Regions from separate parts of the Homo sapiens genome. Here all the other regions are linked to region 2. Evidence: fine-mapped expression QTL. A gene starts in region 2. Each other region holds a variant in brackets. All regions are shown on one strand. Distances are between the middles of the regions. Region 1 has its middle 36 kb from the start of TMEM273. Region 2 holds the start of TMEM273 (transmembrane protein 273). Region 3 overlaps FAM170B-AS1 (FAM170B antisense RNA 1).

The links. PIP is the estimated chance that this variant, and not a neighbour inherited with it, causes the effect.
Region 1: its variant is the best candidate, but not a certain one, in a credible set for the expression of TMEM273 in whole blood (TOPMed, PIP 0.89).
Region 3: its variant is the best candidate, but not a certain one, in a credible set for the expression of TMEM273 in whole blood (INTERVAL, PIP 0.86).

The regions. Positions count from the first base shown.
Region 1 is chr10:49,223,244-49,226,012 of GRCh38, forward strand. No RefSeq gene overlaps it. Among named protein-coding and RNA genes, the nearest start is that of TMEM273, 36 kb to the left of the region's middle. The variant C/G (reference allele first, on the strand shown) is at 1,374.
Region 2 is chr10:49,187,284-49,190,052 of GRCh38, forward strand. TMEM273 (transmembrane protein 273) reads right to left here and starts at 1,108. Exons shown (of 7, transcript NM_001288740.3): 1 at 1,011-1,108. The coding sequence starts at 1,053.
Region 3 is chr10:49,124,868-49,127,636 of GRCh38, forward strand. The region is part of intron 1 of FAM170B-AS1 (FAM170B antisense RNA 1); the gene reads left to right. Among named protein-coding and RNA genes, the nearest start is that of FAM170B-AS1, 4.4 kb to the left of the region's middle. The variant C/A (reference allele first, on the strand shown) is at 1,577.

The DNA of each region.
Region 1 (2,769 bases), 36 kb after region 2:
TGTGGGGGCTCTGCCCCTGTGGTAGGCTTCTGCCTGGGCACCCAGGCTTTCCCATAAGTACTCTGAAATCTAGGGGGAAGCTGCCAAGCCTCCTTCATTCTTGCTTTCTGCACACCTGCAGGCTTAACACCACATGAAAGCTGCCAAAGTTTGTGGTTTGTGCCCTCTGGAGCAGCAGTCTGAGCTGTACCTGGACCCCTTTGAACTGAGGCTGGAGACAGGGTGGCTGGGATGTGGGGAGCAGTGTCCCAAGACTGCTCATGGCAATGGGGGCCTGGGCCTGGCCCTTGAAACCATTCTTTCCTCCTAGGCCTCAGGGCCTGGGATTGGAGGCTGTCTCTAAGATCTCTGAAATGCCTTTGAGGCCTTTTTCCCATTGTCTTGGATGTTAGCACTTGGCTCCCTCTTAGTTGTACACATCTCTCTAGCAAGTGGTTACTCCAAAGGCTGCTTGGATTCCTTCTCTACCACAGGGCCAGGCTGCAAATTTTCCAAACTTTTATACTCTGCTTCCCTTTCAAATACAAGTTACAACTGTAAGCCATTCCTTTGCTCCTATATCTGATCATATGCTATTAGAAGTAGCCAGGCCACATCTTGAATGTTTTGGGGCTTAGAGATTTCTTCCACCAGATACCCTAAGTCATCACTCTTAAGTTCCAACTTCCACAGATCCCTAGACATGAACACAATGCAGCCAAGCTCTTTGCTAAGGCATTACAGGGATGACTTTTACTCCAGTTCCCAATAACTTTCTCATTTTCATCTAAGACCTCCTCAGCCTGAACTTCACTCCCCATATCATTATCAGCATTTTGGTCACAACCATGTAGCCAGTTTCTAAGAAATCCCAAACTTTCCCTCATCTTCCTGACTTATTCTGGGCCTTCCAAACTCTTCCAATCTCTGCTCATTAACCAGTTCCAAAGCCACTTCCACTTTCTCAGGTATCATTATAGCAATGCCCCACTCCTTGGTACCAGTTTTCTGTGTTAGTTCATTCTTGCATTCTTACATTGCTCAAAAGAAATATCTGAGGCTGGGTAATTTATAAAGAAAAGAAATTTAGTTGGCTCACAGTTCTATAGGTTGTACAGGAAGCATGGTGCTGGCATCTGTGGCCAAGAAAATATTACTCTAACAATGTGATACAGATGTTCCTCAATTTATGATGGAGTTGCATCTCAATAAAACCATCTAAGTTAAAAAATATTGTAAGTCAAAAATGCCTTTAGGCTGGGTGTGGTAGTGCATATCTGTAATCCCAGCACTTTGGGAGGCCAAGGCAGATGGATCACTTGAGGCCAGGAGTTCACGACCAGCCTGGCCAACTTGACGAAACTTCATCTCTACTAAAAATTACAAAAATAAGC[C/G]GAGAATGGTGGCACATGCCTGTAATCCCAGCTACTTTGGAGGGTGAGGCACAAGAATCTCTTGAACCTGGGAGGACAAGGCTGCAGTGGGCCATGATCACACCACTGCACTCCAGGCTTGGCAACACAGTGAGACTCTGTCTCAAAAAAAATGTATTTAATTCACCTAACCTACTGTACATCACAGTCCAGCCTAGCCTAGTTGAACGTGCTCAGAACACTTACATTAGCCCATGGTTGGGCAAAATCATCTAACACAAAAAACCTATTTTACGATAAAGTGTTGAATATCTCATGTAAAAGTATCATACTGCATATCACTAGCCTAGGAAAAGATCAAAACTCAAAATTCAAGGTACTGTTTCTACTGAATACATATGGCTTTTGCACCATCATAAAGTCAAAAAATCTTACATCAAATCATCTTAAATTAGGGACCATCTCTACTTGATAAGGTTCCTCTGGCCAAAAATCTTTGAGCACCAAATCGAAAAGTGGTGGCCTACTGATTTGGCAGCTTCCCATTCTGGGGGTTATGGTCTCATGGGACCATGATATCATCAGCAAGAAGAGAGCCCCACTGATTGTTGAAATGCTCCCTAGGTGGGCTCCTATACAAACACCAGGGAAAAATTCCCGGCAGCTCCGCTATGTTACTGCTGCTTCCTGATAACACCAGAGGGCTCCTAAAATAGTTCTCAAGTAGATGTTGTGACTGTCAGATATGTAAATCGAAGGGTAACAAGCAAAATGTGCTGGACCTAGGAGCTCGGTGCTAAGAGGGTGGGCAAGGGGTGGTCGGACACAGGCTGCCCTGGAGCCAGCAGGAGTTAGCTCAGAGGAGCCTCCAGGAAATGAGCACCGCAGCTTCCAACCAGGTCTCCTTCCATGCAGACGAGACTGCGGGCCGGGCCACATGTACTCACGTTACTCAATGACTCACAGACAGTGGCCAAGGGACAGCTCAGGGCCATCTTTAGCTGACAGGCTCAGTGTCACTTCAGTCCATGCCCGAGCCCTCCCCAAGAGAGCCCACTCTGTCTCCAGCACCACTGCTCCCAGCTCCACCCAGGCCTCCCTCTCTGAAGTGGGGAAAGCCTGGGAGCTCTTCCTCTTTATCAGCCCTGCATCTCCTGCTGTCCTGCTGACCAAGACACTCTCTTCCTGCTGATTGTGATGTGTTTGTGGAAATCCACCGGTTTCTGCTGTATCATGACATTCTATTCCTACCAAGCCAACATGACACCCAAAACATTTCCAAACATGCATAACCATACACAGACCTTCTCACAAGATTTATCTTCTGGACACATTACTTAAACTAACAAGGCCTCCCTTTTTCTCCTTTTCAGTGCTGGCCATTGCCCCCGGCTGGTTTTCTGCCTTCCCCCTGCAA
Region 2 (2,769 bases):
TGTCTGTCTGACATGCTGACTCCCAAGGCCAAAGTCTTTGCTCTCCCCTGCTTAGTGCAGACTTTAGATGGAAACCTGCCCACAGCACTAACTTTGCCCGCATTCAGGATACAACCTATTGGTCTGGAGACACAAGATTTAATCTGGAGACAGACTGCTTCCCATTGAGTCTCGGCCCAGTGCAAGTTCTGGGAAGGAACGTCTTTGTATATATGAGGGACGTATGCTGCCTTTTTAGGAAACAACAGTTGATATCAGAGGGGACTTCGTAAAGGCATGTGTCTCTCTCCATCTCTGTCTCCATCTATGCATATTTCTAACCATCTCTCTATGTCTCTGTCTGTCTCTCTCTCTCTCTCTTTGAGTTTCTTCCTCTCTGTCTACTTCTCTGACTTTATATTTCTCTCCTCCATTTGGCCCTACTTTGTTTTAGTCTTTGCCTCTCTCCTTTCTTCCTTCTTTCAAGGAATGCATTAAAGATAATTTTTAAAAACAAAGATACCTCTGAGTAGCAAAGAGTCTGCTTCACTGCATGAGAATTCTGATTCAACATTAAATGTATACCAGTATCTACATGCCTACATGTTCTCATTCTATGTCAGTATTTTGATTTGACTTAATTAAATTTAACTTAACTCTCTTGAAATCCCAAAAAGTAAACATGATTATCTCCCATCTCATTGGTTCAGAAAGTTAGGGAGTTTCAGAAGCTTATTCTAGTTTATCAGCAATGGAGCCACAGTTTACACCCAGATGTTTCTAGATCCCAAGCCCGAAGCTCCTTCTGCCATGACCCTTCCTATTCTCCTTTAGCCCAGAAGCATTTGTAAGTTGCAGCTGGAATGAGACAAACAAGATCATTGCTCACTACCAGATCAAAGTGAGAAACATCATCTGTGTAAAGGGACAGAGTTATGTTTTAGGGATCAAGCCCCAGTGGGCTAAGGCTCCCCCAGTTTCCTGCCCACTGAGGCTCCCCCGGGCCAGAGACCCCCGCAGTCCCCACTTACCCAGGAGGAAGAGGATCCTCAGCATGCTGACCCCCAAGTTCATGCTGGCGCTCTGCTCTTGGCTCCTGGCTCCTGGCTGCTGGCAGCGCAGGCACAATGAGCCATGTGACCCAAGGCTCTGGGGACAGGACAAGACCCACGTGACTGATGGGGAAGGAAACCACTGTCACAGCCAGGAGGCTGTTCAGTTCCTCTCAGCCTCTCTGAAGACAGGGCTGAAGGAAGCCCCTGTCATTCTGGACTCCACCAGAAGCTGGCTGTGATTAGACCCATTGTACATGCTGGGGTATTATACCCAGTGTTCTCTCCTATAATCTTCCCCACAGAGTGTGGGAACAAAGCTCGGTAAGGTGCGGTTTCTTGCCTAATGACCCATGCTAGTAAGTCTCAGAGAGGAATGTGGGCAAAGCCGGTCTGCCCTGCAGTCCAGCCCTTGCAGTAGCCTCTGCCTTGGAGCAGAAATAGGAAATGCCCCTCCAGCCAATAGTCCAGCTCGGTCACTGTTTTTGTGCCATGGGAGCCTCTGAGTCTAGGAATGCCTATCACTCTCTTCTCAGAATAAGATTTTTAAATCCCCAAACTAAAATAGATAAGGATCATAGTAGAAATCAGTAGTATTAACACACAGTTATCAAAATATTTTGTTAAACTTGTGAAGTAGAAATATACATGCTTATTTATCCACACAGTAAATAGCAAGATCTGGCAGCAGATGAAACAGCTACCACCATCTCGACATGGTGATAAATGGAATCGATATTGAGAGATACCTGTAACAGCTGGAATGTGGATGGAAAGACCTGTGATTCCTACCAGAAATAAAGTTACTGGGTGGTAATGTTTCTGTGGTTCGTTTGCCACACTACTATTAGAAGAAGATGCTAAGTGTTCCTTAGAGGTTAGAGAACAGAGATGTAATTTTTTTCCCATCCAAGTTTACAGGCCCCATGTCCAGGTCCTTAGCCTGGAGGAACTTTGGTAGTCACACAGGCTCAGCCAGCAGGCTGAAGGCCTTATGCTCCTGTACTCCTTTATACCTGCACGTTGTCACAATGCTTAGATGTTCAGCCAAAAACCCAAATGTGCAGGAAATGTCACTTTTTAAAATATAAATCAACTTAATGACAAGTCTTGAGTCCCCCACCCAACTGAGCTGGCAGAAATCGAGCTCTTTTCATTCTTGGGCTCCCTCAGTCAAATCCCTAACGGTAGCAGCCAACACCGTGAGCACTTGCTACTGAGCCCAATGCCATCTTAGCATGCAACCTGTCCAAGTCCACGCAGCAGTAAATGTGAGAGCTGGACTCGAAACCCAGGCCTTTGGCTGGCAGCCTATGCCCCTCAGGCTGCATGTGCCCTCTGTGTACAGGTACCATCCCCTGCCAAGGTCCAGCCAGAGGCAGTCCGATTGCCCTGGTGCCACAGATGCCCCCTGGGTTCTTCTGCATGGCTGCTGTGGCTCCTTCTGAGTTTCACATAAATAATGGACATGAGAGGAGAAGGCTGGTCATGAGAGAAGCAATTGGCTTCATCTGGGTGCCTTCAAGTTCCATCTGTCCACACTTTATTCATTTGATGAAATTAAGATCAGTTTCTACCTGCACCAAGAAACATACTCTCTTATTTCTCCTGGAATATGTGGAGTTTTCTTAATTTTGCCCCAGTTCATGGGAACATGTGTAAGAAAAATATTTCACTTTCCTCTAAGTGTATTGAAAGAAAATGCCAGTGCAGACCTGACAATCTGTAGACAGTGGCT
Region 3 (2,769 bases), 62 kb before region 2:
CCTCATTGGACTGTGGAGAGCACTGAATGATTTACTATTCACAAAGTGTTTAAAATGATGCTTTGCCCTTAGAATACAGAATTTAGCACTTAAAAACACTTGTCTCTTACAGGCTGAAATTTCAGAGCTTAGATATTATGCCTCATTTCAATTCTCTCCCATACTGATTTTTTAAAAATAAAACTTTCTGTGTCCGTGTGTTCTCATTGTTCAATTCCCACCTATGAGTGAGAATATACGGTGTTTGGTTTTTTGTTCTTGCGATAGTTTACTGAGAATGATGATTTCCAATTTCATCCATGTCCCCACAAAGGACATGAACTCATCATTTTTTATGGCTGCATAGTATTCCATGGTGTATATGTGCCACATTTTCTTAATCCAGTCTGTCATTGTTGGACATTTGGGTTGGTTCCAAGTCTTTGCTATTGTGAATAGTGCCGCAATAAACATACGTGTGCATGTGTCTTTATAGCAGCATGATTTATAGTCCTTTGGGTATATACCCAGTAATGGGATGGCTGGGTCAAATGGTATTTCTAGTTCTAGATCCCTGAGGAATCGCCACACTGACTTCCACAATGGTTCAACTAGTTTACAGTCCCACCAACAGTGTAAAAGCGTTCCAATTTCTCCACATCCTCTCCAGCACCTGTTGTTTCCTGATTTTTTAATGATTGCCATTCTAACTGGTGTGAAATGGTAACTCATTGTGGTTTTGATTTGCATTTCTCTGATAGCCCGTGATGGTGAGCATTTTTTCATGTGTTTTTTGGCTGCATAAATGTCTTCTTTTGAGAAGTGTCTGTTCATGTCCTTCACCCACTTTTTGATGGGGTTGTTTGTTTTTTTCTTGTAAATTTGTTTGAGTTCATTGTAGATTCTGGATATTAGCCCTTTGTCACATGAGTAGGTTGTGAAAATTTTCTCCCATTTTGTAGGTTGCCTGTTCATTCTGATGGTAGTTGCTTTTGCTGTGCAGAAGCTCTTTAGTTTAATTAGATCCCATTTGTCAATTTTGGCTTTTGTTGCCATTGCTTTGGTGTTTTAGACATGAAGTCCTTGCCCATGCCTATGTCCTGAATGGTAATGCCTAGGTTTTCTTCTAGGGTTTGTATGGTTTTAGGTCTAACACGTAAGTCTTTAATCCATCTTGAATTAATTTTTGCATAAGGTGTAAGGAAGGGATCCAGTTTCAGCTTTCTACATATGGCTAGCCAGTTTTCCCAGCACCATTTATTAAATAGGGAATCCTTTCCCCACTGCTTGTCTTTCTCAGGTTTGTCAAAGATCAGATAGTTGTAGATATGTGGCGTTATTTCTGAGGGCTCTGTTCTGTTCCATTGATCTATATCTCTGTTTTGGTACCAGTACCATGCTGTTTTGGTTACTGTAGCCTTGTAGTATAGTTTGAAGTCAGGTAGTGTGATGCCTCCAGCTTTGTTCTTTTGGCTTAGGATTGACTTGGCAATGCAGGCTCTTTTTTGGTTCCATATGAACTTTAAAGTAGTTTTTTCCAATTCTGTGAAGAAAGTTATTGGTAGCTTGATGGGGATGGCATTGAATCTATAAATTA[C/A]CTTGGGCAGTATGGCCATTTTCACAATATTGATTCTTCCTACCCATGAGCATGGAATGTTCTTCCATTTGTTTGTATCCTCTTTTATTTCCTTGAGCAGTGGTTTGTAGTTCTCCTTGAAGAGGTCCTTCATGTCCCTTGTAAGTTGGATTCCTAGGTATTTTATTCTCTTTGAAGCAATTGTGAATGGGAGTTCACTCATGATTTGGCTCTCTGTTTGTCTGTTATTGGTGTATAAGAATGCTTGTGATTTTTGTACATTGATTTTGTATCCTGAGACTTTGCTGAAGTTGCTTATCAGCTTAAGGAGATTTTGGGCTGAGACGATGGGGTTTTCTAGATATACAATCATGTCATCTGCAAACAAAGACAATTTGACTCCCTCTCTTCCTAATTGAATACCCTTTATTTCCTTCTCCTGCCTAATTGCCCTGGCCAGAACTTCCAACACTATGTTGAATAGGCATGGTGAGAGAAGGCATCCCTGTCTTGTGCCAGTTTTCAATGGGAATGCTTCCAGTTTTTGCCCATTCAGTATGATATTGGCTGTGGGTTTGTCATAGATAGCTCTTATTATTTTGAGATATGTCCCATCAATACCTAATTTATTTAGAGTTTTTAGCATGAAGAGTTGTTGAATTTTGTCAAAGGCCTTTTCTGCATCTATTGAGATAATCACGTGGTTTTTGTCTTTGGTTCTGTTTATATGCTTGATTACATTTATTGATTTGCGTATATTGAACCAGCCTAGCATCCCAGGGATGAAGCCCACTTGATCATGGTGGATAAGCTTTTTGATGTGCTGCTGGATTCGGTTTGCCAGTATTTTATTGAGGATTTTTGCATCAATGTTCATCAAGGATATTGGTCTAAAATTCTCTTTTTTGGTTGTGTCTCTGCCCGGCTTTGGTATCAGGATGATGCTGGCCTCATAAAATGAGTTAGGGAGGATTCCCTCTTTTTCTATTGATTGGAATAGTTTCAGAAGGAATGGTACCAGTTCCTCCTTGTACCTCTGGTAGAATTCGGCTGTGAATCCATCTGGTCCTGGACTCTTTTTGGTTGGTAAGCTATTGATTATTGCCACAATTTCAGAGCCTGTTATTGGTCTATTCAGAGATTCAACTTCTTCCTGGTTTAGTCTTGGGAGGGTGTATTTGTCGAGGAATTTATCCATTTCTTCTAGATTTTCT